4 linked regions of the Homo sapiens genome follow. The protein of the gene in region 3 interacts with the protein of the main gene of each other region in a pairwise test. Each region holds a gene or a part of one and is shown on either strand. Other genes may lie near its edges. The genes, in order: KLK6, GRAP, TOX and DMRTB1.

What was found.
Region 1: the proteins of TOX (region 3) and KLK6 interact in binary tests that used the Homo sapiens proteins (3 or more experiments, as listed by UniProt).
Region 2: the proteins of TOX (region 3) and GRAP interact in binary tests that used the Homo sapiens proteins (3 or more experiments, as listed by UniProt).
Region 4: the proteins of TOX (region 3) and DMRTB1 interact in binary tests that used the Homo sapiens proteins (3 or more experiments, as listed by UniProt).

Annotation. Positions count from the first base shown.
Region 1 is NC_000019.10:50,959,587-50,966,614, forward strand, and holds part of KLK6 (kallikrein-6 isoform A preproprotein), read right to left. Parts: intron 4,925-7,028; exon of another isoform or gene 4,842-4,924; intron 4,081-4,841; exon of another isoform or gene 3,970-4,080; intron 3,964-3,969; coding exon 3,716-3,963; intron 2,295-3,715; coding exon 2,158-2,294; intron 1-2,157. UniProt on the Homo sapiens protein: Serine protease which exhibits a preference for Arg over Lys in the substrate P1 position and for Ser or Pro in the P2 position.
Region 2 is NC_000017.11:19,043,938-19,051,721, forward strand, and holds the start of GRAP (GRB2-related adapter protein), read right to left. Parts: upstream 3,021-7,784; 5' UTR 2,990-3,020; coding exon 2,912-2,989; intron 1-2,911. UniProt on the Homo sapiens protein: Couples signals from receptor and cytoplasmic tyrosine kinases to the Ras signaling pathway. Plays a role in the inner ear and in hearing.
Region 3 is NC_000008.11:58,815,132-58,822,159, forward strand, and holds part of TOX (thymocyte selection-associated high mobility group box protein TOX), read right to left. Parts: intron 594-7,028; coding exon 207-593; intron 1-206. UniProt on the Homo sapiens protein: Transcriptional regulator with a major role in neural stem cell commitment and corticogenesis as well as in lymphoid cell development and lymphoid tissue organogenesis.
Region 4 is NC_000001.11:53,462,392-53,468,009, reverse strand, and holds the end of DMRTB1 (doublesex- and mab-3-related transcription factor B1), read right to left. Parts: intron 3,374-5,618; coding exon 3,163-3,373; intron 1,416-3,162; coding exon 1,348-1,415; 3' UTR 522-1,347; downstream 1-521.

The sequences.
Region 1 (7,028 bases), on a different chromosome or scaffold from region 3:
CATAGAGAGCAAGAAAGAGAAACAATTTAAGAATGGAGACTGAGAGGTGTGGAGAGAGGCAGAGGTGTAGAGACCGATGGAGAGAGAGGAGGAGGAAGAGGAGAAGGAGGAGGAAGAGGAGAAGGAGAGGAGGAAGAGGAGGAGGAAGAGGAGGAGGAGGAAGAGGAGGAGGAAGAGGAGAAGGAGGAGGAGGAGGAAGAGGAGGAGGAAGAGGAGAAGGAGGAGGAGGAAGAGGAGGAGGAAGAGGAGAAGAAGGAGGAAGAAGAGGAGGAGGAAGAGGAGGAGGAGGAAGAGGAGGAGGAGGAAGAGGAGGAGGAGAAGGAAGAGGAGGAGAAGAGGAGGAAAAGGAGGAGGAGGAAAAGGGGGAGGAGGAAGAGGAGGAGGAGGAAGAGGAGAACGAGGAGGAGGAAGAGGAGAAGGAAGAGGAGAAGGAGGAGGAGGAGGGGGAAGACGAGGAGGAGGAGGGAGAGGAGGGGGGAGGAGGAGGGGGAGGAGGAGGGGGAGGAGGATGGGGAGGGGGAGGAGGATGGAGAGGGGGAGGAGGATGGGGAGGGGGAGGAGGGGGAGGAGGAGACGATAAGACCCAGGTGGGAGAGGTAGGGAGGGCCCAGGGAGAGATATGCCTGGCACTATTCTGTCCAGGGACACCTCTCCACCTCGTGTCTTGAGGACAGTCTCGCCCACCTGCCCTTTCTTTGCGTCCAACTTGCTATGTATCGCTTTCCCTGTCTCTGTCCCTGTTTCTGCCTGTGTCTCCGTTTCTGCCTGTGTCTCCCCCTTGGTTGGTCTCTGCACATCCCTCAGTGCATTAGTCATTCTGGCATAAAGAGGAGAGCCTGGATGGATGACAATGGAGGAAACCCAAGTTAAAGTATTCGGGAGGGAGTCCCCTTTCCCCAGCTAGTGTCTCCCTCCTCCAGAGCCTGGTCGTTTCTGAGCAGGACTCGTGGGGGCTCTGTTTGAGGAAGGACAGTCCCCTCACACCATCTGCTTCCTTACTACTTCTCTTTGGTTCTTTTTGTTTTTAGACAGAGTCTGGCTCTGTCCCCAGGCTGGAGTGCAGTGGCGTGATCTCAGCTCACTGCAGCCTCTGCCTCCTGGGTTTAAGCAATTCTCCAGCCTCAGCCTCCCGAGTAGCTGGGACTACAGGTGTGTCCCACCATGCTTGCGTAATTTTTGTTTTTTGGTTTTTTTTTGAGACGGAATCTTGCTCTGTTGCCAGGCTGGAGTGCAGTAGCATGATCTCGACTCACTGCAACAACCTCCGCCTCCAGGTTCAAGTGATTCTCCTGCCACAGCCTCCTGAGTAGCTGGGACTACAGGCGCCTGCCACCACGCCCAGCTAATTTTTGTATTTTTAGTAGAGATGAGGTTTCCCCATATCGGCCAGGCTGGTCTCAATCTCTTGACCTGGTTATTCACCCACCTCGGCCTCCCAAGGTGCTGGGATTACAGGCATGAGCCACTGTGCCCATCCTAATTTTTGTATTTTTAGTAGAGATAGGGTTTCACCATGTTGATCAGGCTGGTCTCGAACTCCTGACCCCAGGTGATCCTCCTGCTTCGGCCTCCCAAGGTGCTGGGATTACAGGCATGAGCCACTGTGCCCATCCTAATTTTTGTATTTTTAGTAGAGATAGGGTTTCACCATGTTGATCAGGCTGGTCTCGAACTCCTGACCCCAGGTGATCCTCCTGCTTCGGCCTCCCAAGGTGCTGGGATTACAGGCATGAGCCACTGTGCCCATCCTAATTTTTGTATTTTTAGTAGAGATAGGGTTTCACCATGTTGATCAGGCTGGTCTCGAACTCCTGACCCTAGGTGATCCTCCTGCTTCGGCCTCCCAAAGTGCCGGGATTACAGGCATGAGCCGCTGCTCCTGGCCTCTCTGGTTCTTGATCCCGCGGCCTCCATCCTTGTCTCTGCACTTCCTGTCTCTGCTGGCTGTGTCTTTATATCTCTGCATATCCCTGACTGTGTCTCTGTGTGTTGAACTAAGTCTCTTCTTTTCAAGGCTTGGGTTCTCCCTCAGCCTGTCTCTATCTGTCTCTGTAAAGCTCTCTTTTGGCCTGTGTCTCTCTCTTCCTGTGTCTGGCCATGTTTTTGTGACTTCGTCCTGTCCCTGGCTGTGTAAGTGGCAGATCCGGGTCACCTCACCTGGCAGGAATCCTTCCCGTACTTCTCATCCCCAGCACACAACATGTTCTGGGTGATCTGGCCAGGGTAGGCATGCTCACACTCCTCACGGGACACCAGGTGGATGTATGCACACTGGATGGTGTCAGGGAAATCACCTGTTAGGGGAGAGATGGGCCAGACTCAGCCCAGGCCTTGCACTCCCCTCATCCTCCCCAGTCACCCCCCAACCCCTATAAGTCCTCCATCCTCTATTGGTCCCTCTTTTCTATTGGCACCCCTCTTCCTGTTTGTCTCTCATTCTTACATCTCATTACCATCGTCCCTGCCTCCTAATTGGTCCCTCTTTCTATCATTCTTCCCCCCCATTGGCTGTCTTCCTCATTAATAGTCTCTTCTCCAGGAGTCCTCATTTCCTATTGGTTTTCCTTTTCTCTTAGGTCCCTCCTCCACTTTTCTCTCTTCCACTGGTCCCACCTTCTTCAGTAGTTTCAGTTGACCTGGAGGACTCTTCCTCTGTTACGCCCTCCTCTACTGTACCCCTCCTGATCAGTAGTCCATTCTTCATTGGACACTTCCTGCCCATTGATTCATCTTGATTGGTCACTCTGTGACCATTGGTCTTTTCCTAACTGGCCATGCCCTCTCCCATTGGTTCTTCCTTTCTATTGGTTCTTCATCCAATGGTCCACCTCCATCATTGGTCCTTTTCTAACTGTCCCCACCCTCCCTCATGGATCCTCCCTTTCTATTGGCCCTTCCTCCAATGGTCTACCTTCCTCATTGGTCCTTTCCTAACTGGCCCTGCCCTCCCTCATTGGCTCTCTCTTCCTATTGGTCTGCTTCCCTCCTTGGTCCTTTTCTAACTGGCCTCACCATCCCCCACTGGCTCTCCCTTCCTATTAGCCCTTCATCCAATGGTCCACCTCCCTCATTGGTCCTTTTCTAACTTGCCGCATCCTCCCCCATTGTCTCTGCCTTCCCACTGGCCCTTCATCCAATGGTTCACCTTTCTTATTGGCCCTTCACACACAGGCCCACCTTCATGGATCCTGCTGATCTATTGGACCTGTTTTTTCCTCTAGTGACTCCTCTGGACCATTGATCCTTTCCCCTTAGTCCCTCTTCCATCAGCTATACCCCCATTCACTGTCTCAATTCACATCCTTCAGTTGGCTTTTGTGCTTTATTGGTTTCTCTTCTTCCATCAGTTCCTTCTCCATTATTCCTTCCTGCTGTTCAATGAATCCTGATCAGTCCCCTTTGACCTTTGACATCCTTCCTGATTAGCATCTCCCCACTGACCTTCCCTCTTTATTGAACCTTCATCTTATGTTCCATCTCTCCCATGCTATTCACCCATTGGTCTACATTTTCCATTGGCTGTTCACTCACTGGCCCAGCTCCCAAATTCACTCTCCCTCCCCCTTGACCTTTCTCCCATTGAAACCCTGTCCCATTGGTCCTCACCATTAGCCCATCTTCCCATGGCCCCTCACCAATTTTCCCACTCCCCATCCTTTGGCACACTTCCCCAAGTAGCCAGTAGCCTGCTCCCCACCAGCCTCCCACTACTGACCATCTGCTGTCTTGCCCCAGCCCAGGATGTGGCAGCTGGTGGTGTTGGCTGAGCAGTCCCTCTCCAGGGGAAGGGGCTGGATGAGTTCAGAGAGTTTGGCTGGGCGTGCCAGGCGCAACAGCATGATGTCCTGGTCATGGCTGGCGGCATCATAGTCAGGGTGGATCACAGCCCGGACAACAGAACTCTGCTCCTGGGAACTCTCCCTTTGCCGAAGGTTATGCTTCCCCAGGAAGACCTGAAGATTCCTGGGAAGGAAGAGGGCTGGGTCTCACCTGGAGCCCTTGGGCTGCAGTTGAGGCTTCAGAGAGGGCTGGGAAGTCATGAATCGCTGGCCTGCTCCTCCCACAGTCTTCCCCAGCTGGGTAAATGGCAATTCCATCCTTTCAGAATAATCTTGGGGGCTATTCTTCACTCTCTTTATTTCATGCCCTACATCCAAGCTGTCCAGAATTCCTTTTGCCTCTCTGAAGCATATCCAGAATCTGGCCACATCTCACCTTTCCCACGGCTACCATCTTGGTTTGAGCTGCCTTTTCACTTCCTACCTGAACTAGAGCAGTAGCCTCCTCACTGGGCTCCCTGCTCTGTCTCTGGTCCCCCACAGTCCATCCTCCACAAAGCAACCAGAGATATTTTAACAATGTAAGTTGGTCCTGTGCCTCCTCTGCTCAGCCCCTCCTATGACTCCCATCTCACTCAGAATCAAAGCCAAAGTTCTCAACGTGGCACACCAGGCCTTGCAAGCACTGCCCCATCATCTCACAGACATCTTCTCCTCCCACTCTCCCCTTCTCTCCCTCTGCTCCAGCCAAACGCTGGCTTCCCTGTCTTGCCTTGAACACAATAGTGATCTTCCCACCTCAGGGCCTTTGCACTGCTGTTCCCTCTGCCAGCAAGTCTGTCCTCCAAGTATCTGCATAGCTCACTCCCTCACTTCCTTTAAATGTCGCCTCTCAGGGAAGCCTTCCTTAGTTGCCCAATTAAAATACAAATACCTGTTAGTAGGCAATTCCTATCTCCCTCCCCTGCTTTCTGTTCCACCAGAGAACCTATCACAATCATCCGACCTGCTATATATTTATTGTTAAATATTTACTCATTGTGTTATTTCTCCTCCTTGCAGAGCAATGCTGTCCACTAAATGCTACGATGCCATGATCTCGATCTGCACTGTCCAGAGGTGGCTGGGGGAACCACAAGCTACAGGTGGCTGCTGAGTACTTGAAATGTGGCTTGTGGATTTTCCATTTCATTAATTTCAATGTAATTTGCTATATGTGGCTGATGGCTACCATATTAGACAGTGCAGCTCTAGGATGTCAAGATGGGGATTTTTGTTCTATTCAGATATAGTATCTCCAGTGCGTTGATCAGCACCTGGCACAGGATAGGTGTTTGATACATATTCCTGAAACAGAGAGTCACTCCCTTGCTCAGACATCACCCATGGCTCCCCATTGTCCTAAGAATAAAGCCTGGGCTCCTCCACTTGGCACTGGAGCCCCTGTGTGATCTGGCTGTAGTCACTTTCCAACCTTATCTCCCAGCACCTTCTGCCCCCCAGTGAACGGGAAATTTTATTTTCTGAGAATACTCAAGACGGTTCTCACCTCAGGGGTGTTATCACAGCCTTTCCTCTGCCCTGAACATTCCTTTTCCCATCTTCATGCCTCCGCTTGGATTTTATCTCATTAGAAAGTCCTTCCTGACCCTCCTCCATCTAAAGTAGGTACCCGTATTCTTTTCCTTCATAATTTGTAATTATATGGGGTTTTGAAGGGTTTGCTTCTTTTGTTTGTTTGTTTTTTTGAGACAGGGTCTCGCTCTGTCACCCAGGCTGGATCTGCAGTGGTGTTCTGTAGATCACAGCTCACTGCAGCTTTGTACTCCTGGGCTCGAGTGATCCACCCGCCTCGGCCTCCCAAAGTGCTGGGATTACAGGCATGAGCCACCACGGCCAGCCCAATTTGCTGCTTCTTTCTTTCCTTTTTTTTTTTTTAGACAGAGTCTCGCTCTGTGGTTCAGGCTGGAGTGCAGTGGCGCGATCTCGGCTCACTGCAACCTCCGCCTCCCACGTTCAAGCAATTCTCCTGCCTTAGCCTCCCAAGTTGCTGGAATTACAGAAGCCCACCACCACGCCTGGCTAATTTTTTGTATTTTCAGTAGAGACAGGGTTGAGCCATGTTGGCCAAGCTGGTCTCGAACTCAGGTAATCCACCCACCTCGGCCTCCCAAAGTGCTGGGATTACAGGCGTGAGCCACCATGCCCAGCCCTCACTTTGCTTGTCTGCACCTTTCTGTCCTTGTGCTCCCGAGGGCAGGGATGACGTGTGTGTCCCATCCATTGCTGAATCTCCACTGCCCAACTCGAATGTGGCACTTAGCAGGTGCTCTTAGTCAATGTACATCAAAGGAATGAATGATGGTGGTGAGAGTCATCCAAGGTCTCCTTGGGGTCAGGGGAACCACCCCAGGGATTGTCACTTGCTATTTCCCTGCACCTCAGTTTCCTCATTTGCAAAATGGTGCCAAGAGTCCCTTGTGGTGGGCATTCCAGGAAAGGTGTGTACATGGTTTCACTCAGCACCTGATTGGTAGTTAGCATCAAACAAGTGGCAGCTGTCGTGAATCTGACTAGTGAGGATCAGCGCCCAGGGTTTTTGTCCTGGGCCCTCCAGCTCCTCCAACTATGCCAGCTTTTTGGATGATCTCATCTAGTCCCATGGCTTTAAATACACCTGTTTGCTGACGATGCCTTCATTTTAACCTCCAGCCCTGACCTCTCCTCTGAGCTCCAGAGTCCTCCCTGGCCTCCCTGCTGGGACATCTCCCCGGCATCTCCAACTCATCGTGGCTAAAGCAAAATGTCAGATGCTCCCCTGCCTACACCCGGCCTGTTTCTCTTTCCCTCTCCCACAACTCAGAGAAAGACGTGGCAAAACACCCAGTTGTTCAGGACAAATACACGGAAGCCAGCCGTGCTTCTTCCTCTCCCTCCTGTTCCTCGTTGCCAGATTCTGCTGGCTCAGTCTCAGAATTCCACATCCCAAGATATTCAACATCCCTCCATCCCCACTGCGACCGCCTGGGTTCAAGCCACCCTCCTATGTCGCCGGATGAAAGCAACAGCCCCCACGTGGGCCTCCCTCCCTCTCTCTTGCCCAGACCACGTTCCACGTGGTAGCCAGGGTGCTTGTAAAAATGTAAATCAGGCTGGGTGTGGTGGTGGCTCATGCCTGTAATCCCAGCTCTTTGGGAGGGCGAGGCGGGCGGATCACCTGAGGTCAGGAGTTCGAGACCAGCCTGGCCA
Region 2 (7,784 bases), on a different chromosome or scaffold from region 3:
ATTTCTTTTTCTTTTTTCTTTTTTTTTTTCTTTTTGAGATGGAGTCTCACTCTGTCACCAGGCTGGAGTGCAGTGGCGCAATCTCAGCTCACTGCAACCTCTGCCTCCTGGGTTCAAGCGATTCTCCTGCCTCAGCCTCCCGAGTAGCTGGGACTACAGGTGTGTGCCACCACGCCCAGCTAAATTTTTGTATTTTTAGTAGAGATGGGGTTTCACCATGTTGGCCAGGCTGGTCTCGATCTCTTGACCTCACGTTAACTGATTTCTTACTGTGAACATTGTTTGAAAGCCCCAGACCCTCTGAGACCCGGGAATTCTCACAAGGGAGAGAGGCCAACTCCTCCCTGGAGGAGTATCACTGCTCAAGGTGAGAGGCAGAACTTGGCCTGCCCCTGAGCCTTTGCCCACATGGTGCCCTCCACCCAGGCTGCCGCCCCACTTTACCATCCCAGCCCGATGCAGTTGCTGCTTGATAGTTGTTTACTGAGCACCTACTGTGTGCCAGGCACCCCACGACAGAGCAGGGAACAAGAAGCTCACATTCTAGTAGGCAGAGACAGACCATAAACAAGGGAAGAAACAAATAAGCAAGGTAGTTTAATGGAGCAGTAAGCGCTGTGAAAAATGGACATCAGGTGACAGATGGAGAATGTCTGGTTGGGTGGGAGCAGGGAGATTGTCAACACGGGACAGGTGGGGTGGTCCAGAAAGGCCTCTCTGAAGAAGTGACATGGAAGCTGAGACCCGAATTACAAGAAGGAACCAGCGGTAAGAAAATGTGGGGAACAGTGTCCAAGACGGACGGAACAGCCAGTGCCAAGGCTCTGAGGTGGGGCCAAGCTCTGTCCCTGAAACAGAAAGGAGGCCAGGGTGTCTGGAGCTGAGGGAGGGAGGAGCAGATGTCATAAGATGTACGGGGGAGGACCAGGCTCTGAGTCATGGCCACTGCATGGAGACTGGGCTGGGGAGCAGGGATTGTTGCGGGGAGGCCTTGGGAGCCACCACGCAAGCCCAGGTAAGTGACAATGGAGGCCTGGGCTGGAGGAGGGGCTTCGGGTAGGTTTTGCCAGAGTTGCCGACAAGACAATGACAGGCAGCAGAAAGTAGGTTCAGGGAGCCCAGGGCTGGCTGTGTTGGGTCTGGACCGTCGCCCTTTCCCATGGAGATGTCAAGGTGACATGGGCTTCCTGAGTCTGGGTCTCATCATCCAGGCTGCTCGTGCAGAGATGGGAGTGAAGCCACTAACCACATGCCCCTCCAGCTGGCAACAGCATGGGGGTGCGTGCACCCAGAAACGCCTGGCCTATCAGGGAGGGAGGCTTTGTCCCAGGGAGGTGATGTTTGGGGCCATTTGTCCAGGGTGAGTCCATGAGCCAGAGTTTTCATCCAAGACCAAAGTTCAGATTTCAAGAACGGGCTTCATCGCCCACTCTCCCAGGCTGGACTCAATCTGTAGGCAGGCAGTGCCATGGCAGGGGCTGGCCCACAGGGAGCACTGGAAAATACTTGCTAGACGAGAGGACAGGATGGTCGCGGAGCTCAGCTTCCACCCCAGCCACTTGATCCCTCCAAGCCTGGCTCAACGCCTCCCGCGCACCCCATTCCTATTTCATCACTGCCCCACTCCCTCCCAACACCACACTTGGGTCTAGAGACCTCGAAGTGCTCTCAGATGAGAAACCAAGACTTGGATCCCCGCAGAGGGTCATGCCTTGGGCTCACAGCCCCAGTGCTCAGCCTGGCCCTGTCCCCATCTGGCCACATGTCCACGAGGCCGACAGCCAGCACTGCAGTGACCCCAGGTGCCAGCACCAGCACCCCAGCATAGAGAAGAAGGAATTGCTCCTCCTCCTCTGGACCCCAACCCCCAGCCCAGCCTGTTCAGACCAAGCGCAAGTTCCACAGCCAAAGGGACACGGGTTCAAAACTGACTCCATACCGAGCAGGTCATGTTGCCTCCCTGTGCCTCAGTTTAGTCACCTGTGAAATGGGGGTGCCAGTCCCCATTGCTTAAATGGTACATGAGGTGTGCTGCTGAGTTCGGGGCCTGGCTATAGCAGGGTGATGGCACAGGGAGCTCTCCCGTCTTGTGCTTGAAGCTTGTGGCCAAGGGCAGCGCCCAGGGCTCAGCGCAGAGGAGCATCCAGTCTAACACCCATTGCTCCAGTGGGGAAACTGAGGCCCAGGGAAGGGCAGTCACTTCCCTAGTGTGGTTTACTGGCAGTTCCAGTGCACACGTCTTGGCATGGCCACTCCCAGAATCCTGGGCATGGCTTTCATATGCAAACTTTTAAGCAAGGACATTTCCAGAGACACATTCCACAGGCCCAACTGTCTAGACCGTCTTGGAAGGCTGCAACATCTGTCAAAAGCGGCCCAGACAAGGAGAAATGAACGGTGGTATGACTCTATTTTCCCTTTTCTCCACACTACTGGGAAGCTCATCCTTGACACTTTCATCTTAGCTATTTTAGCCCTACTAGGTTAGCATGTGTACTTATTTCTTTCCTAAGACCTTCTCTCTCTCCCTCTTTCTCGCTCTGTTCTCCATTCCCATACTCTGTCTCTCTCTCTAGCTCTCATTCTCTCCCTCTCTCAACAATTTTCTTTTCAAACTTTTTCCTGGAAAACTGGGGGTTGAACTAACTCCTGCCAGACACTGTGGTAATATCTCATCGAATCCTCACAACAGCCCCAAAGGAGGGTCATTAGTTATCTCCCCATTTCCTAGATGGAGAATCTGAGGCTCCGAGGGAAAAGGTGGCTTGTCCAGAGTCACACAGCCAATAACTGGAGAGGCTGGGCCTGTCTTCCAGGGGCCACAGTCTGCTTGGGACAGTCCCAGGTCCCTGGTTCCTAAATCCACCCCCACCCCGTGTGGGGCCAACTCAGCAGGCTCCAGCCCCCCTACCTTGAGTGTGTCTCCCTTGTTGAAGGCCAGCTCGTCGCTCTCTGTAGCCTGAAAGCTGTACAGGGCCACGGACTCCATGCCGCTGCTCGGGGCTCCAGCAGCTGGGCTCAGAGCTGGGCCGACAGCTTCCTGCTTCCTCTGCAGTCGAGGACGGTCTTCCTTTGTTTTGAGTGCGCGTTTGTTCTTTTGAAGTTGAGACTGAAACTGCTCCTGATGGGGGAGAAACAGGAAACAGACATGTCACAGAGCAGGGAGGGCTTGTGAGCCAGCTCTGTCCCTACCTCAGACCCCAGGTGCCAGGAATGGCCCTTGGGGAGTCTCCCTGAAGCTCTGGGAGTGGGGCCCCCTTGTGCCCATGTTTTATCATCCGTAAAAGTGAGGTGCCTGGAGGAGAAGTGCCAAAGCTGTCCTGCTGGCTCAGGCACTGAGTCTCATGGCACCAGATGCTGGCCTCCCTTCACCAATCTGCCAATGACTCTCCATCTTTTCCTAAACCCTGATGCCTCTTGTGATGCCCTGCCTCCTGCTCCTTCAATCCCAAGCTCCTCACCTGGCATTCAAGGCCCTTGCAATCCACCACCTCCACCTGCCCCTACAAACAGCCCCCATTCTCATCCTTTGTCATCCCCTTCACTCTAAACAAACCCAGGGCTTCAGCCACAGCAAGGGGCCACACCAAACTCTCATTTCAACCCCAGACTTTTGCACACGTGGTTCCTCTGCCTGGTGTTCTCCTCTTTCTGCTCCCAGGAGACTCCTATTCATCCATCAAAGACCAGCTCAGAAGGTACCTCTTCTGGTTTAGACACTGGGCACCTTAGGTGGGACTTAAATCCTAAGGTCAACAAGACTTGTAGGTCGGGCGCGATGGCTCATGCCTATAATCCCAGCACTTTGAGAGGCCAAGATGGGCGGATCACTGGAGGTCAGGAGTTCGAGATCAGCCTGGCCAACATGGTGAAGCCTCATCTCTAATAAAAATACAAAAAATTAGCCTGGCATGGTGGCATGTGCCTGTAATCCCAGCTACTGGGAAGGCTGAGGCACAAGAATCGCTTGAACCCGGGAGGCAGAGGCTGCAGTGAGCCAAGGATCCATCCAGGCTCCAAGCAATCCTCCCACCTCAGCCTCCAGAGTAGCTCGGACTACAGGTGCCCACCACCATGTCTGGCTAATTATTTGTATTTTTAGTAGAGATGGGTTTTCACCATGTTACCAAGGCTGGTCTTGAATTCCTGGACTCAAGCGATCCTCCTGCCTGAGATTGCGCCATTGCACTCCAGCCTGGGTGACAGAGCGAGTCTCCTTCTCAAAAAAAAAAAAAAAAAAAAGAGAATTGTAAATAAATCTCTACCTTTCCTTAGTGGGTTTGTTATGAGCAGTGTTATCGGTGTAGCAATTCTGAAACTGTTTTGCAAGTGTTGCAGGATAGCGCACAAATGGACAAGCACAGCTGTATTGTTTGGAACCAGGGTTCTCCCTGGGAAAGAAGGGAGACACAGACGTGGAAGGAAAACCAGGCAGAGCCCTGTGGTGTTGCATGGACACTGGATGAATCAGTGTGAAGTCACATTGTTTTTTTTCTGTAAAGAAGTTTTTCTTCCTTCATTTATATTAATATAGGCTCATGGTTTCATATTTTAGCCAGTGGATTATAATCCATTACTATTACATTTATTTTGATGCTTAAAATGCCCCTGATTAGGCCAGTGGGGTCTCCTTCAAGCTGTCTCCTTATCCTTTTGACATGGACCCATCATTCTATGAACACACCCTGACCTTCTGGCCAATAATAGAAGAATCGCTTGAACCTGGGAGATGGAAGTTGCAGTGAGCCGAGATCGCACCATTGCACTCTAGCCTGGGTGACACATCAAGACTCCATCTCAAAAAAAAAAAAAAAAATAGTTGAGAGGGAAGAAGAGAAGATGACAGCTGCCCGCCGCCCACTCTGGAGTCCCTGAGCCAACCAGGCAGGATGGAGCTGGCCCTGGCCTCACCCAGCTCCATTCCAGGGCTTCTCCACGCTGCCCTCTACTCAAAGACCCCTGCCTTCTGGCTGCCCCCGACCCCAAGGGTGACAGGATGTTATAAGGCCCCTCTTTCCGGCTCTGTTGCAGCTGAGGTTTCAAAGCCTCAGAATGATGCAATGGAGGGGTTGGGATCGGCCCCCGCCTCAGTTCTGAGGTGCTTCTAGCCATATGAGGGGAGGAGGACTTCCCCTTATGAAGCTGAATGGGTGTCCCCTGGGGCGGTGGGACAGATGCCGGGTTTATTTTTATGTGTTTTAGAAGTATTTATTCTCTGCCAAGTCCTTTACAAAGAGGTAAGTGACCAATAGTTGGTAGGTGGCAGGGCTGGGGTTCAAACCCAGGCAGGCCTGAGGGCCAAACCATGCCTACAACTCCTTCGCCGCATGGCCTCAACCCGAAGGATTCCTGCCCAAGGTGGCTCGGGCCAGAGCTGGGAGCCTGGGCTGCCTACTGTACAGTGAGCTCAAGGAGTGCAGTGAGGTAAGCAGCAAAGCTTTGTTGGAGGGTAAATCTGCCCTGATTCCGGGAGACCAGAGAGGACCCCACAAATGGGACTTGACTGAGAGGACCCTTGAAGAATGCAGCACCCCAAATGAGGCAGACGCTGGGGCCTGGAACGAGGGGCCATCGGAAACTGGAGGCTTGGGCCAGGCGCGGTGGCTCATGCCTGTAATCCCAGCACTTTGGGAGGTCAAGGCAGGCAGATCACTTGAGGCCAGGAGTTCGAGACCAGCCTGACCAACATGGTGAAACCCTGTCTCTACCAAAAATACAAAATTAGGCTGGGCACGGTGGCTCACATCTGCAATCCCAGCACTTTGGGAGGCCGAGGCAGGTGGATCACCTGAGGTTAGGAGTTTGAGACCAGCCTGGCCAACATAGTGAAACCCCGTCTCTACTAAAAATAAAAAATTAGCTAGGCGTGGTGGCGAGTGCCTATAATCCCAGCTATTTGGGAGGCTGAGGCAGGAGAATCACTTGAACCCAGGAGACGGAAGTTGCAGTGAGCCAAGATCATGCCACTGCACTCCAGCCTGGGCGACAAGAGTGAAACTCCATCTCAAAAAATGTATATACAAAATTAGCCGGGAGTGGTGGCGCACGCCTGTAATCCCAGCTACTTGGGAAGCTGAGGCAGGAGAATTGCTTGAACCCAGGAGGCGGAGGTTGCAGTGAGCCGAGATCACCCCATTATACTCCAGCCTGGGCAACAAAAGAGAAACCCTATCTCAAAAAAAAAAAAAAACAAAAAAACAACAAAATAAGGAGTTTTGGAAACCAAGGTTTTATTATGCAGATGAAGCCTCCAGGTAGCTGGCTTCAGAGAGAATATAGTGTAAATGTTTCTTATCAGACTGAAAGAGTCCGTTCTAACAGTAATTCCAAAAGCGAGGAGGTTATAACAAGGCATGTCCAGCTCCCCCTTCCCATCATATCCTGAACTCATTTTCAGGTTAACTTTGGAATGCCCTTGCCGAGAGAAGGAGTCCATTTGGATGGTTAAGGGGCTTAGGATTTTGGTTTTGGTTTATGGAGGTCCCTCAAAAGCTGCTCACAGGAGGAAAACTCATCACTGGCCACAGGCCACACCAGGCCAGGGCAGACCCAGCCACTGTCTCAGTGCTGAAACCCTAACCCCCTGTGATCAGCTGAGTAACAGCCCCGAAGACATCCAGGTCCTGATCTCAAGAACTTGGAACGTTCCCTTATATGACAAGAGGGACTTTGCCGGTGCGATTATGTTAAGGGTCGTGAGATTGGATGGAAACTGCAATTTCAATGCAGTTTGAGTTCTGTAATTAGTAGACTGGGCTAGACTACTGGACCCTGGAACACTCCAAACAGGCTGATTGGGGAACTTTTTATCATCAGAGATTGGCTGAAACACCTGAGAGAACTCCCTGAAAAAAAATTTTTTTGAGACAGAGTTTTGCTTTTGTTGCCTGAACTAGAGTGCAGTGGCATGATCTCAGCTCACTGCAACCTCCGCCTCCCTGTGTCTACTTGAAATACAAAAATTGGCCAGGCATGGTGGCGCACGCCTGTAGTCCCAGCTACTTGGAAATAGAATCACTTGAACCTGGGAGGTGGAGATTGCAGTGAGCAGAGATCGTGCCACTGCACTCCAGCCTGGGTGACAGAGGGAGACTCTGTCTCAGAAAAAAAAAAAAAAAAGAAAGAAAGAAAGAAAAGAAAATGAAGAAACAGGCCAGGCATGGTGGCTCACACCTGTAATCCCAGCACTTTGGGAAGCTGGAGCAGGAGGAATGCTTGAACCCAGGAGTTCAAGACCAGCCTGGACAACATAGTGAGAACCCATCTCTACAAAAATAAACAACAACAAAAATAGGCCAGGCATGGTGGCTCTCACCTGTAATCCCAGCTACTCAGGAGGCTGAGGTGGGAGGATCGTTTCGGTCCTGGATTTCAAGGTGATAGTGAGCTATGATCACACCATTGTACTCCTGCCTCTGAGGACAGAGCGAGACTTTGTCTGGAAAAAAAAAAAGAAAATGCAAATGAAGAAACATGGATTCATGAACATCTATGAATATTTGGTTTAAAAAGGTGAGGCCATGGTGTTTGCACTGAGATCATGGCCCCTCTTGCCCTTCCTCTCAGCTCAGTGAGGCTGAGACTCCACTCTGGACAGCTGCAGCCAAGAACATGGGGTCCCCTGCTGCCTCCAGACCAGGGAAACAGGGCTCCCTCTGCCCCCAGCTCCCAGTGGGAGGGCTTGCCTCCCACGAAGAACAGGACATCCATTTCCTATTCTACCCCCAGCCACCTGTTGCTGAGACTAAGTCCTGGATGAGTGTAGCCAAGAGTTGGGGGCCCCC
Region 3 (7,028 bases):
CATAATGCCACACGAACTCACCACTTGTAAATTACATTTTACAGAAAGCAGATATTTGTTGAATATCTTTAGTGCTCTCTTGACTTAAATAGAAGGATAGAAAACACATATCCCCAATCCTGTCCTGGATAAACAGCTCCCCCCACCTCCACCACCACACTTCAGAATAGGGGTGCACACTCTAAGTCCAGAGCCATTGCACTTACTTGCTGCATGGTGGGTGAGTGTAAGGCAGACTGGACCTGCATGGGGAGCTGGTTCCCAAGGGGCTGCTGCATGGTGAGCGGCTGGTGCTGCTGCATGTTGAGATGCTGGTGAAGAGGCGGGCTGATCTGGAGGGGAGGAGGAGGGGACACAGCCATGTTTGCTATAGAGACAGTCACTGGCATTTGGTTATTCGGCTTGGGGGCTATGTTCCTGGGGAGACTAGGATGCATGGCAGTTAGGTGAGGATTCATTCCCGGTTGTTGGTGATAGTGGGAACTTAGGTACAGGGCCGAGTGGGCCTGGCTGGGCCCATGGAACACCGACGGCTTCGAATTGATCAGCTGAGGAGGTTGAGATGTCTTCACGTCAACAGGTTCACTGTAGCTCTGTTGAGGAAATAAATGAGCAGAGTTGGGAGGCTGATACATGAGTGTTGATTCAAGGTATGACGCTTTGTGAGTTTATTAAAGCACCTTCCCTGGAATCCATACCCATGACTATCCCGGACTCTCTGATCTAAGAATTTCTTCACCATTATTTGTAATGTGATTTATAGAAGACAGCTTCTATCCCTTTTAGGAAATTGAAAACAATCTGCAATGACATTTTGTTCCTTTGCCTAAATGTTTTTAACTCGGTGACTTTTCTCATTATCCAAATGAGGGTGACAAGATGGGTTTGTGGAGGGTGGGGGACGGGAGAAGGCAGATGCCGTGAATGCCCAAATGGGAAACACACGTGAAGATTACTTTCAAAGCAAATCAGTTCTGGAGTTCTTCTATAGATTATAGGTTTAGTTTTTAATTTTTCCTTTTTTATATTCTCAAAGAGACTTGGCCTAGATATTTGCACAAAGAAAACAAAGCTGGTTGATGGAAATGGATATGGGAGAACAGAGTTCTAAAATACCTTTCTGAAGTCATATAAAACTACATTAATATACTCTTCAAAGTAACTGCAGAACTTATCCTGAGTTTTAAAATGAAGTTGGTGATGAATTGTCCTCCATAATGAAGTAGATAAAAATAATCTCTCTTAGAAATTTTAGACTCCATCATAAATTAATATAATTTTGCCCTAATTTTTTCCGCACCTTCATATGATCATTTCCTAATAATATTTTAATTGATTTTAAAACTGAACATTTCAGTAAAGGCTGAAAAGAATCAAGAATTAACCCTGTGGCAATTCCTCATGGGCCTGAACCTACCTCCTACATTTCCTGAGAGGAAGAGACTGATAAAACAACCAAAGGTAGCAGGTAGAACCAACTGGAAGGAAAAAAGTGATAAAATGGATTGGAGAAAAAAAATCACTTTGTCAAAACAAGGTCTTGAGGACGCATATATGCTTTTACTCTGCAATCTCAATGTCATGCTTATTCAGCTTTCAAGTCAAAGTGAGTTTCTTACTACTTTCCACACTGCAGGGAGAACTGTGCCATGAGGGCTCTCGGGGTCCTTCTGCTCAATGCACCACCGGGCAACCCACTGACAGGCCCTTAGAGAAACGGGTTCATCATGCACGACAGCGTGAAACTCAGGCCGGGTAGCTTCATTATCACCAGGCAGCTTACATTACGGTTAGCAACACAACTCATTTGTCTTCAATAATGCAGTCAAGTTTCATGAAAACCACAGTAAGAATGATGCTGTGTATGTCTGCTGACTCCTGGGGTGACGGGGACAGGCTGGGGTGGGTGGACGATCAGCCCCACGTTCTGTCATTATAGAAAGGACACATCTGACACCTGTAAAAGTATGCCAAACCATGGAAACCTGGGGTCCTGTGAGACTCTGAATACTCCACGCACAGTATAAAGTAAGGTGTACTGAAATAATTCCAGCCCCTTTGGAGAGTCCTCTCATTCTGACATTTTCCCCTGTGTCACACTGTTGATGCAGCTTTCTGAAATAGGAACAAACATATAGACTCCCTGTCTTCAGTATTAACATTAAAAACATCAAAAACTGTTCATGCAAAAATTTTAAGGGGAGGTTTTAGATCAAAGAAGCTTTATTAAATGTAGCTCCTAAGAGGTGCTTTTCATTAAAAAAAAAAAACAAGTTTTAAGTAGATTTTTTTTGGCTTCCATTTAAAAATTCTTATTGTTGATGTGCAAAATAGTTAACAATTCAAGGAAAAGGTCAAATGGGTTAATCGAGCCTGTGTAAACAGTGACTACTTCCACATCAGAATAACATGTACTGCAATTCATATGCCTCAAAAATTATTCCGTATATGCCAGAAAGATTATGTGTTAAGTCTGTGTGTTTAAGTAATCTGGAAAAGTGTTCGGTATGTTTGAATTCCCTCTTTTTAGCCTATTGCAGAAGGGCTAGTTTCATATTTAGTCACAGACTGTGTTGACTTCATACCAGAAAGAAATCATATTTATAAAAATGGATACATATTGGTGCATCTTTATTTTTTGCTTTATAGGTGTTGTTTTTAATTTAAAAATAATACAAGTCACTCACATTCTTGTATGATCAAAAGTAGAAAATATGTGTAACTGTAAAAATGTTTTCATTTTTAATTTCTATATATAACATATTACTAGATAATGAGGTAAGTTTTGGCTAAAGAAATAAAAATATCGAATTCAAAATAAACAATGAATTTAATTTTCCTGAATTCTACTATTTAAATAATTGTATGTGGTCCATCATATAGAGAGATGATAGATAAGCAGAGGTAGAGATGGAATAGATGTACAGATTTACAGAAGTGAACAGATAGCAACCTAATTTGAGATACTTTATTACCAACCTTGTAAAGCTCTCTTTTTTCATGGATAATTAAACACAAAACATTTTCTCTATCTAGCCACTTATTTGTCATTTATGTCCTCCATATCAAAGCACACAAAGACCAGTCCCCCTCAACCTACTTTGAAAGAGTAGTAACTTTTAATCACTAGAATAACTATTGGCAAACTCAAAGTAAATAGAGTTCCAAAGATAATGATTCAGACAACACTTGAAACATAATTTTTAACATAGAGGGAGGGAGAATTTGGGGAAGTTATATATATTTTCCCTTTATTTTCTAATCATTGACTGTGACAACAGAAATAACGTATCCAGCCTTGTGCCTGAACGTGGCAGGTGCTCCAATATAAGTTATTTTCCTGTAGTCTCTTTTCACAAAGATGTCCTGATTCCTCCAAAAGGGCATCTTTTTTTGATGGTAGGGACTTGAATTTCTGTAGCCCACGCATCTACCATAGTGCAAAATACATAAAAACACAATTATGTTTTCTAAGGAGTGAATGACTATTCTTGAGCAATCCTCCAGGCAGCCACCATTGCCCTTGCTGACTTGCCCTCTTGACCAGACACACCGTTCCTCTTCCCATGGAGTGAGGAAGGATCTGAAGGCTTGGAAAAGCCACAGAGTATTAGATTGACCTTCCTCATGCTCTTCTCTGCTCTCGGCAGGACCCAAACCCTTCCTGAAGTGATGAGAAATTACAGCTTTCCGCTCTGTCCTTTGGTTAGATACACTGCCCTTTATGCCTCACTGGTCTTGGGGGAATGGCAGTAGCAGGGCAGCTAGTTCAGTCTCACCCATACTTTGGGAATTTGTATGTTTATGTAATGGTCCACTCATTTAGATGAGGAAAAACCTGCTTCTGGCTTCGCTTTTCATTAATTATTAAGCAGTCTAGTACAATAGACCATCTATTAATTACAGAGTTATTTTATTGTTCTGGAAGATAGGTAGAATAAGTTCATTTTCAGTGGCAAACTGCCATAAATTCATAATGTGATTAAATGAAAATACATAGAAATCATAATGTACTCTTACTGTCATTTTTTCCCAATTTAACTGTGAAAGCAAGGCTACAATTTTGCTGATCAATTATATTGCATATGAAGACTTCTATACCTATCATTCAGAAATTAGAACTATTTTCTCATACATACTAAGTAATTTGCATTTGTTTCCACTTTTAAACACATTAACCACTTTTATTTAGCAATGAGTGTCATGTTGGTCACCTGACAAATGTGTTTCCTAGCTTGTAGACAACTGAAAATCAACCTTTGAATCCCACACTTTCACAGAAGGAATGTGTTCTTGCTGTTAGTTTCTGAGTATGTTCTCTTTCCTATTTGCATTTAGACGACAGATTCTGGAAGATATTTTCTACAAGCCATAAAGTGGGGGTCGTGGCCATAGAGACATTTTGAGTATTATCTGTAGGGAGTTCCTTTGACATATGCAAAATGTATAAAGGATACAACTCTATAAGCCTGAAGATACCTTTTACTAACCAAATTGTTGATTACTGAAGGTAGCTTCAATCCCATTTACTTTGTATAATGAAGATAATACTGCATAGTGTATAAATTTCCCCATTCTGGGATGATATGTGCTATAAAAATGAAAGATTGACAAAGCTATTGTTATTTAAAATAGCAAAGTATAAATACAATGCATAAAAATCAGTGGAAGGAACAATATAAGAGTTGCTGAACCAAATCAAATTAATAGTCCATCTAATTTGATTCTTGTTTTCAGCACTGACCGATACTTAATGCATTGAAAATTAAACAAAATTTATGCACCTACTCAATTGTGCATTGCTCCTTCTGGAAGGAAAATTCTTTCTGCTCCATGCAGGTGATTAACTTATACCCTGAAGCATGAGATTTTATTATCTTTAAATCACGATCTGGGTTTACAGAGCTGCAAATTTTACGTTAACAGTCATACAATGATCCATCCCATTTGCAAATTCAGACTCAATATTTGTCTCCATAGCTCACCATGGCATGGTATCTGTAAGTTTGCCTCATTCTATAAAAAGAAACTGTTTTTTTCAAATCCACTTTCCTTTAATTGAACTAAGCATTGTGCTTCTTTACTACTGACTATGGAAACAGAGAACTTTCTTGACTTAATTCAATATTGTCCTGTTCTGTACGTTAAAAAAAAAAAAGGTTTCCATTTGTCCTTTATAAATTTTAGCACTTCATGAACTATTCCTTAAGGTAGAAACAAAATCTTATATTTGATGTTATGACCTTAAAATCATGAATCTGATTGCCTTTATTTAATAAACCAGAACATAGTTATCCAAATGCCATATCCTTCCAGGTTGGCAATCCTGAGAAGTTGTACACTTATTTCAATAATGCTGCCTTTATTTGGGATATTTGGGAGCTTCCCTACTGGAATTCTCTTCAGAGCCTGTGAGACACTGTTTTACATATCCTCAGACAACTCTTTGTCTTTTGATGGTGAATTTGATTTTTGGAAACAGCTAATAGTCACTTGAAGCCAAGTCTGCGGGTTATATCTGGGTGATGTTTGGGGAAAAGAATGAGGTGTGAAAACAATGTAACAAGATTGATTTTCTAATGTGGCTCATAAACTTTTCCTGACTACAGTTCTAAAAGAGGAGTTTCAAAAATTTTTTGAACTCTGGGAGCAATAATAAAATGAGTTTGCAGCCTCCCAAGGTGACTACTTTGAATGCAACACTCATTTTGGGAATATAAATTCTGGTCTATGTGGTAAAATGAAACTAGTTCCATTGCTCTATAGTTATACATTGTTTTCAGCATAATAATTTAGATCCATGTCTAGGAATTCCCGAGTCTATGGAAAAACTATATTTCCTTAAGCTTTATTTGACAGTCCAACCCCATATGACCTTCAATAGCGTGTAAAATTGCTTAAGATGGGAAGGCCAAGCCTCCATAATAGCATATATCCTTGGACCTCTTTGCAGGGTTCATAAAGATCATTTCAATTAAGAAAACTATAGATGAATGCATTTTTGTTTATATCTAGATCATATCTTTATAAAGAAATGCATCTATGATGCAAAATTTTCCTTTTTAATGTCACTTTTAAAATTTCCTTATATCAAAGTAGCCTTTGATATAAAGACAAATTGAAAATATCATCCAGCTAAATTTTCAATGATATGCAAATCTTTCCCCCCTCCTTTCTATACCTACTAATACTAAAAATAAAATTAATAATAATACTCATAGCTTATATTTATTAAGTGCTTCCTATGTTCAGGATGCTGAGTCATGCTGTTTATTTTTTAAATTTTTGAATTTTAAAAATTTTAATTGTATTGTGATAAGAACACTTAACATGAGATCTACCATCTTCACAAATTTTCAAGTGTACAATCCAGTATTGTTGACTCTAGGTCCAATGTTGTACAGCAGATCTCCAGAGCTAATTCATCTGGTTTGAGGAATGCTTTCTGCCTGTTGATTATTGACTCCCTATTTCCCCCTCTCCCAGCCCTGGCAACCACCGTGCCACTCTTTGAGTCTATGAAATTGACTATTCTAGATACCTCCTATAAGTGGAATCATGCAGTACATGTCTTTCTGTGACTGACTTATTTAATTTAGCATAATGTCCTCAAGTGAACCATGTAATTTGTATAGATTTGCTTATTTTATCCTCATGGAAACCCTAAGATGTAGGTCCTATTATCTTCTCTGTTTAACATTTGAGTAAATGGAGACTTAGAACATACAAGGAACTGCATGAAGATATGCAGTTAGGAAGTGGGAAACCTGGGATTCGAATCCAGATCCACCCGCCCCAGAGACTACAGACTCCTCAGTCTGAGGACTCTCCCAGTATGATAGAGGTGGCACTTTTTAGATGTCCTAGAACAGGCTTCCTGTGATTCCATATGAAAGTGCAGAGGTTGAAGTTGCCTTAGAGGCCTCCAATCCTTATTTATAACATTTGCTTCTGCTTTTAAGTTTCTCTATGGAAAGAAGTTGTTTAACAATTCAAGAGTTTAGCAATGTCCCCTGTTCAGATTAAAT
Region 4 (5,618 bases), on a different chromosome or scaffold from region 3:
ATGAATCCCCTAAGACTCTCTGTCTCTCCCACTAGATGTCATGTTCCTCATGGGCAGAGCTGGGAACTGTCAAGTTCTGAATCTAGTAGAAACACAGGATGTTTTCTAAATGAAGGTATAAATGCAACCAATGGAAGAAGCCGAGGACCCTAAAACAGAATTGGTTCAAGTTCTGTTTTTTTAAATGCATGTTCCTATGCAGGGACTATGGAAGGAGCTGGAGGAAGGAAACTAAGACATCTTTACATTTTGTGTGTCTACATCAGATTTCCTTAAAAGGTCTCCATTGCTTAAAATAACAACAGTAATAATAAAGAAGTCTACTAGCCTGGCCCAATCCCCTCACTTGATAAAGAAAGGGGAGGTAGAACAGGGAGGGCAGGAACTAAAAATAGGAACTAAGCAAGTGCAGACAAGGCCAGCCACAGGCCACAAACCAAGGCCCCCAATCTCCCCAACTCAGGCTCCTGCCAACCCTACCTTCCACCAGGATCAAAGGGAGAATAAGCCTTCCACAAGGATTTCCATTGCTCATTTTATTTCAATAGCCAACTGTCCTCACAGAAGAAACTGTTCATGTCACAGGTGATCAGAAGCACCATTCTATTCCCTAGGGACTGCATCAGTGCTTATGAACAGCCTACTTTTTAAAGTTGGCAATCACTATAAAAACATCAAATAGTCAAACTAATAAATTTTTTAAAACCAGTGCCCATAATGGCTGAAACTTTATGGAGGGGGAATGAAGTAGCCCCAGCAGCCAGGATGCTTGCTAGTAAAACCCCTTAGAGGAGGGGCAAGGGGCTGTGGCCAGGAAGATGTGGGGGACAGAGCAGCAAGGCAGGATGCTGCAGAACCTGCTGTCAACGACCCTGGTCCTGGCTGCTGGCTCCAGCCACCTGGATGAACTGGAATCTTGATGTCTGTGGTGCCCCCAGCAACCTGGAGGACCAGGCAAAGGCAGCAGAAGGCTGAAATAGATGGTGCCTCCTGTCCTAGAGTGGGGCCTGAGGAAATCAAATACTGCCTCTGGGGCTTGTTCCAATAAATGGTAGTGTAACCCAAGGACAGTTAAATTCATTCCTAAATGGGAGCTTCTCCCAGCGCCCACTCCTCAGAGCCCTGGCCCTCCCCTGGTAATAGCTTCCTCCACACTCTTCTTCAACTGTACAGCGCAGGATTGAAACTTAGAAATTGCTCTCCTTCCTCCTATCTTAAACTGGGAATCAGTTGCCATCTATGCTATCAACCTCCTTCCTCCCTACATATCACTGAATGAAGACAAGAAAACTGTTGCTGTTGCCCCCCAGTGCCCCACTCTGCTGGCCAGGAGGGCGGGCCTGGGGCCTAGTCGGACTGCTCCTGAGACGATGGCTGGCTGGGCTCACCCGACAGTACCTCTGCATCCTGGTCATCTGTGAAGGACAAAGAAGGTAGCTGGATTTAGAAAGAGCGAAAATTACAACTACCTATTTGCAGATGAAGATTTTCTTTTTTCTTATTTTATTTTAATTTTTTTGAGACAGAGTCTCGCTCTGTCACCCAGGCTGGAGTGCAGTGGTGTAATCTCAGCTCACCGCAACCTCCACCTCCCAGGTTCAAGCAATTCTCCTGCCTCGGCCTCCTGAGTAGCTGGGATTACAGGCACCCGCCAACATGCCCAGTTAATTTTTGTATTTTTAGTAGAGACAGGGTTGCCCCATGTTGGCCAGGCTGGTCTTGAACTCCTGACCTCAGGTGATCCACCCACCTCACCCTCCCCAAAGTGCTGGGATCACAGGTGTGAGTCACTGTGCCCAGCCCAGATACAGATTTTCCATAAGCCTTTCTCATCATTCCCAGCCCTAGGGGAGAATGTATTTTCTTTAACTTGTTAGGCGCCAGGAGCCTGGAATCCTAGCCTTGGCCATGTGATTCAGATTCAAGTTCCAGCTCTTGCTCTGCTCGTCACAAGCTGGGAGGAATTAGCAAGATACTCCACAGCTCTGAACCTCAGCTTCCCCTTCTGTAAAATGAGACGTATCCACCTTGCAATGGCAGCATGGGCACTAAGTGAAACAGACAGTGATAGGCCACCTTCACCAATGCCTTCATCACTTCAGGTTCTGTTTAATCCTCAGAATCCTCATGAGGTAGGGACCATTATTAGTCTCCTTTTACACATGATGAAACTGGAGCACCAAAGAGTAAATGAGCTTGCTCAAGTTACACAGCTGGGCAAGTGCTGGAGCCAGGACTCACACCCAGGCCACCCAGCACTGGGGCCAGTGGTTTTCAGCCACATGAAACCACCTCTCCAGCTACTGGATCTAGGCACTGCACACACAGGAAGTGTGCAACAGGCCTCAGTTTCCTCTTCAGTAAAATGGTGATACCACCAGACTCCTCTAGCTCATAAGATGGTCTGACAGTCATTTTAAAGGCCTAGTTGAGTTTGTCAGTTCTTTCCAAATCATAGGAGCCCCAGGGGAAGACTGAAAGGAAAAATGTCCTAGAAGCTTTAAAGCTGCAAGGGCCCTCAAAAGAAAACCCAAAACATTTTCACATCCAAAAGTTTCTTCGACCCTCACAGTAACCTAGTAAGGGGGCCCCTTTTATAGTTGAAAAGCCTCAGTGCCCAGGATCATCCAGTGCCCCAGTGGCAGAGCTTGTGAAGGACAGATTCTCTAGCTCCTGGTCTGGTTCCCTCAGAGTGGCCTGGGGCAGAGGCACAGCCCCACCACACGGGTTCCTGCTGCTGCTCCAGTCTCTCCATCTGCTCCCCTACCCCAGCTAGAGAGGCCTGGCACCTCTGGTCTTCCAAACACACCATATGCCTGCTGTCTTCCACAGCACCGCCCACGAGCCAATAAGGTGAGTGAACAGGCACTAGACTGGGAGCTAGACTGAAAAACTCTGTTCAAATCCCAGCTCTGCCATTTATACCCAAGAGAACTGCTGGAGGCCCTGGTTTCCTCACCTGGAATCCCATTCCCACCTCCCTTAGATGTGTGCCTATGGGGACTGGAGGAAGGGTGTAAGAAGGAGCTCATTCTAGGGCTCAACACCCTTTAAATTCCATGTCCCTTCTCTCCACACCTAACCTTTCTTCAGATTAGGTACCTCTTCCTCCAGAAAGTCTCCCTGGCTCTCGCTGAAGCTGGAAGACTGGAGCTCACTCACCAGTGTTCTCCTTGTCAGTATCAAACAGGACGGTCAGTGAGAAAGATGATGGAGGTGGTGGTGGCGGTGGCGGGGGGAGGAAGTGGAGCGCAGAGAGGTAGCCTGGCGGGAGGAACTGGGGCTGCGGTGGAAGCGGTGGAAGGGGCGGCAGTGGCGGCGGCGGCGGCGGCAGGTAGTAGCTTGGCTGGAAGTCTCCTCCTGGTTCTGACACCTGCACGGCACACACAGCAGAGAGGCGGAGAGGAGAGAGAGTTAGCCAGATGGGCTGACCAAACATAGCTCTCACCCCTGAAGTGGGGGGCTCCTGATGGGGTAGATGCACGGCCCCAAACACACAGGCACAGGGCATTTGGAAGGGGGCATTCAGCAAACACCTGCCAAATTATTGAAGGCAAGAAGGAACACAGGCAACCTCAGATAAGCATGGGAACAGCTGAACGGTCACAGTGACAGAGCCCTTCTGTATATGCCAGGGCGATTGTGCTTGGGTGCTCAGAATCCTAGGCGGTGGGTTCTATTACTATTCTTGCTGTAATTATGAAAAACAGGTTCAGTGAGATGAAGCTACAGGCCCAGGGCCGCAGAGCTGCTTTGTGGTTAAGGGGCAGAACTGGATCCCAAGTTGGCTGACTCCATAGCCCACTCAGCTGACTTCTGTCCAGCGCTGCTCTGCACTGGGGAAGGGTCTGAACGCATCCCAACCCCACAGGACCCCCTGTCTGGCACATGTGGTGACTTAAACTCAAGTGCCAGGGGGGCCTTTGGGAGAAGAGGTTGGCAATGTGGGTGTAGCGCAGCTGTTTCTGAGGCAAGATACACTGGGTGACTTCAGGCAAGTGGCCTCACTGATGAACATTTTGCTGCTTCTGTCCCTTCTTCAAGGGATGGAATCCAACCCCTTACCACAGCACAGGGCCCCATCAGAGGATCTGGAGAGGGGATGACTGCACAACTCAGAGCTTAACCAAGAAACACACAAATGTCGTAAGAAATAATACTGAGTTTTGGATGTAGTTCCTGTCATTCACTTCTCTATCCAGATGCTTCAGAGCAACACATCCTGAGCTGAGTTTCATGGAGTCCTGGTGTCCTACAAAGTATTTTTTAGTACTCTTAAAAGTGTTCTTTGTTAAGTGAGTTTGAGAAACCCCATATACTGCTCCCCACATTAGTGGGTCACACATGAGCATATTAAAGGCTTGGAAGAGTCTGCAAAAATCTCCTTAGATTAACCCAGCACTTCCTAACTTCGTTCAACCAGCAGGAAGGGAAGAAATCTCACTTTTAAGTACCTACTATGTGCCAGACCCTGTGCTAGGTATTTTACATGCATCGCCTTATCTATTCTCAGGAGCCCTAATAGATAGGTCCTCTCACTCCCATTTTACAGACCAAGACCCGAGTGAGGTCCTCAGAGGTCAGATAACTGCCACGGGTCACGTGGCTGGGACACGACGGGGGAGGCAGAATTGGACCCTAGGTCTGCCCACCTCCAGGGCCAGTGCTGTCCTGTGAACAGGAGGGCAGAGGAAGCCAAGCAGCAGCAGGTGGGCAGGGACAGGAACAGGAAGGAGGAAACTGTTCTGGAGAGCACCTCCAAGCCTTGGCAGGGGGCAGCAGGACAAGGATGAAAGTGATTCAGGGGCTCTTGGGTTTGAAACAGCTCACAAATCAATGCCTGATTCTCTCTCCAGACTTGAGAGGGTGGAAGAGGGATTATTAGTGCTTTAATTCCAAGCTTCTCAGCCAAGCATCTCCCTGGATCACAGCTCCTGCCTGGGGCCTGTGGTGGCAGCTCAGGCCCAGATAAACCGACTGAGATCACACTCTTAACAAAGGCCGTCTGGCAGGCCTGTCAATCAGAGCGCTGCCCTGGACGCCAGGCTCCAGACTTCTGTGTGAGCAGACGGAACGTGCTTTACTTGGCCAGAGCCCCTCTCTTTGTGTGGAGGCTGGAGATGCCTGGCTCTCCCTGGGCAGTGCCCACAGATGTCAGGCAGGCAGCAGTGCTGGTGTGAGTCAAGGGCCATGTGTGTTCTACCTCTGTGGGAGGGAGGGAAGGGCAGTGGAAAGCACCTGGGCTCCAGAGTCAGGGCGACTGAGGTGCACGACCCGGCTCTGTCACCAACCAGCTGTGTAACTGGAATCCCAGTCTCTCTCTCACCAGTTTTGTGACCCTGGCCAAAAACTTAACTTCTCTGAGCCTTTTTTTCTCGATGCTACAATGGGGTATAATACCTGCCTTGAAGGTTCAATAGACACCCTGGAATTATCAAGGCCAGTGGCTTTCAAACTTTCTTCCCTTGAATCAGTGGAAAATGATTTTTAAGCACAATCTCACAACATCTAAGATAAGTGGAAGAGAAGCTGCTGCCGCCAGGCTGAAGCAGGAGTGAGGACCCAGTGACCTGTGTGCCCAACCTGCCCGGGTGAAGCTCGAGCCCCATTGGACTGGC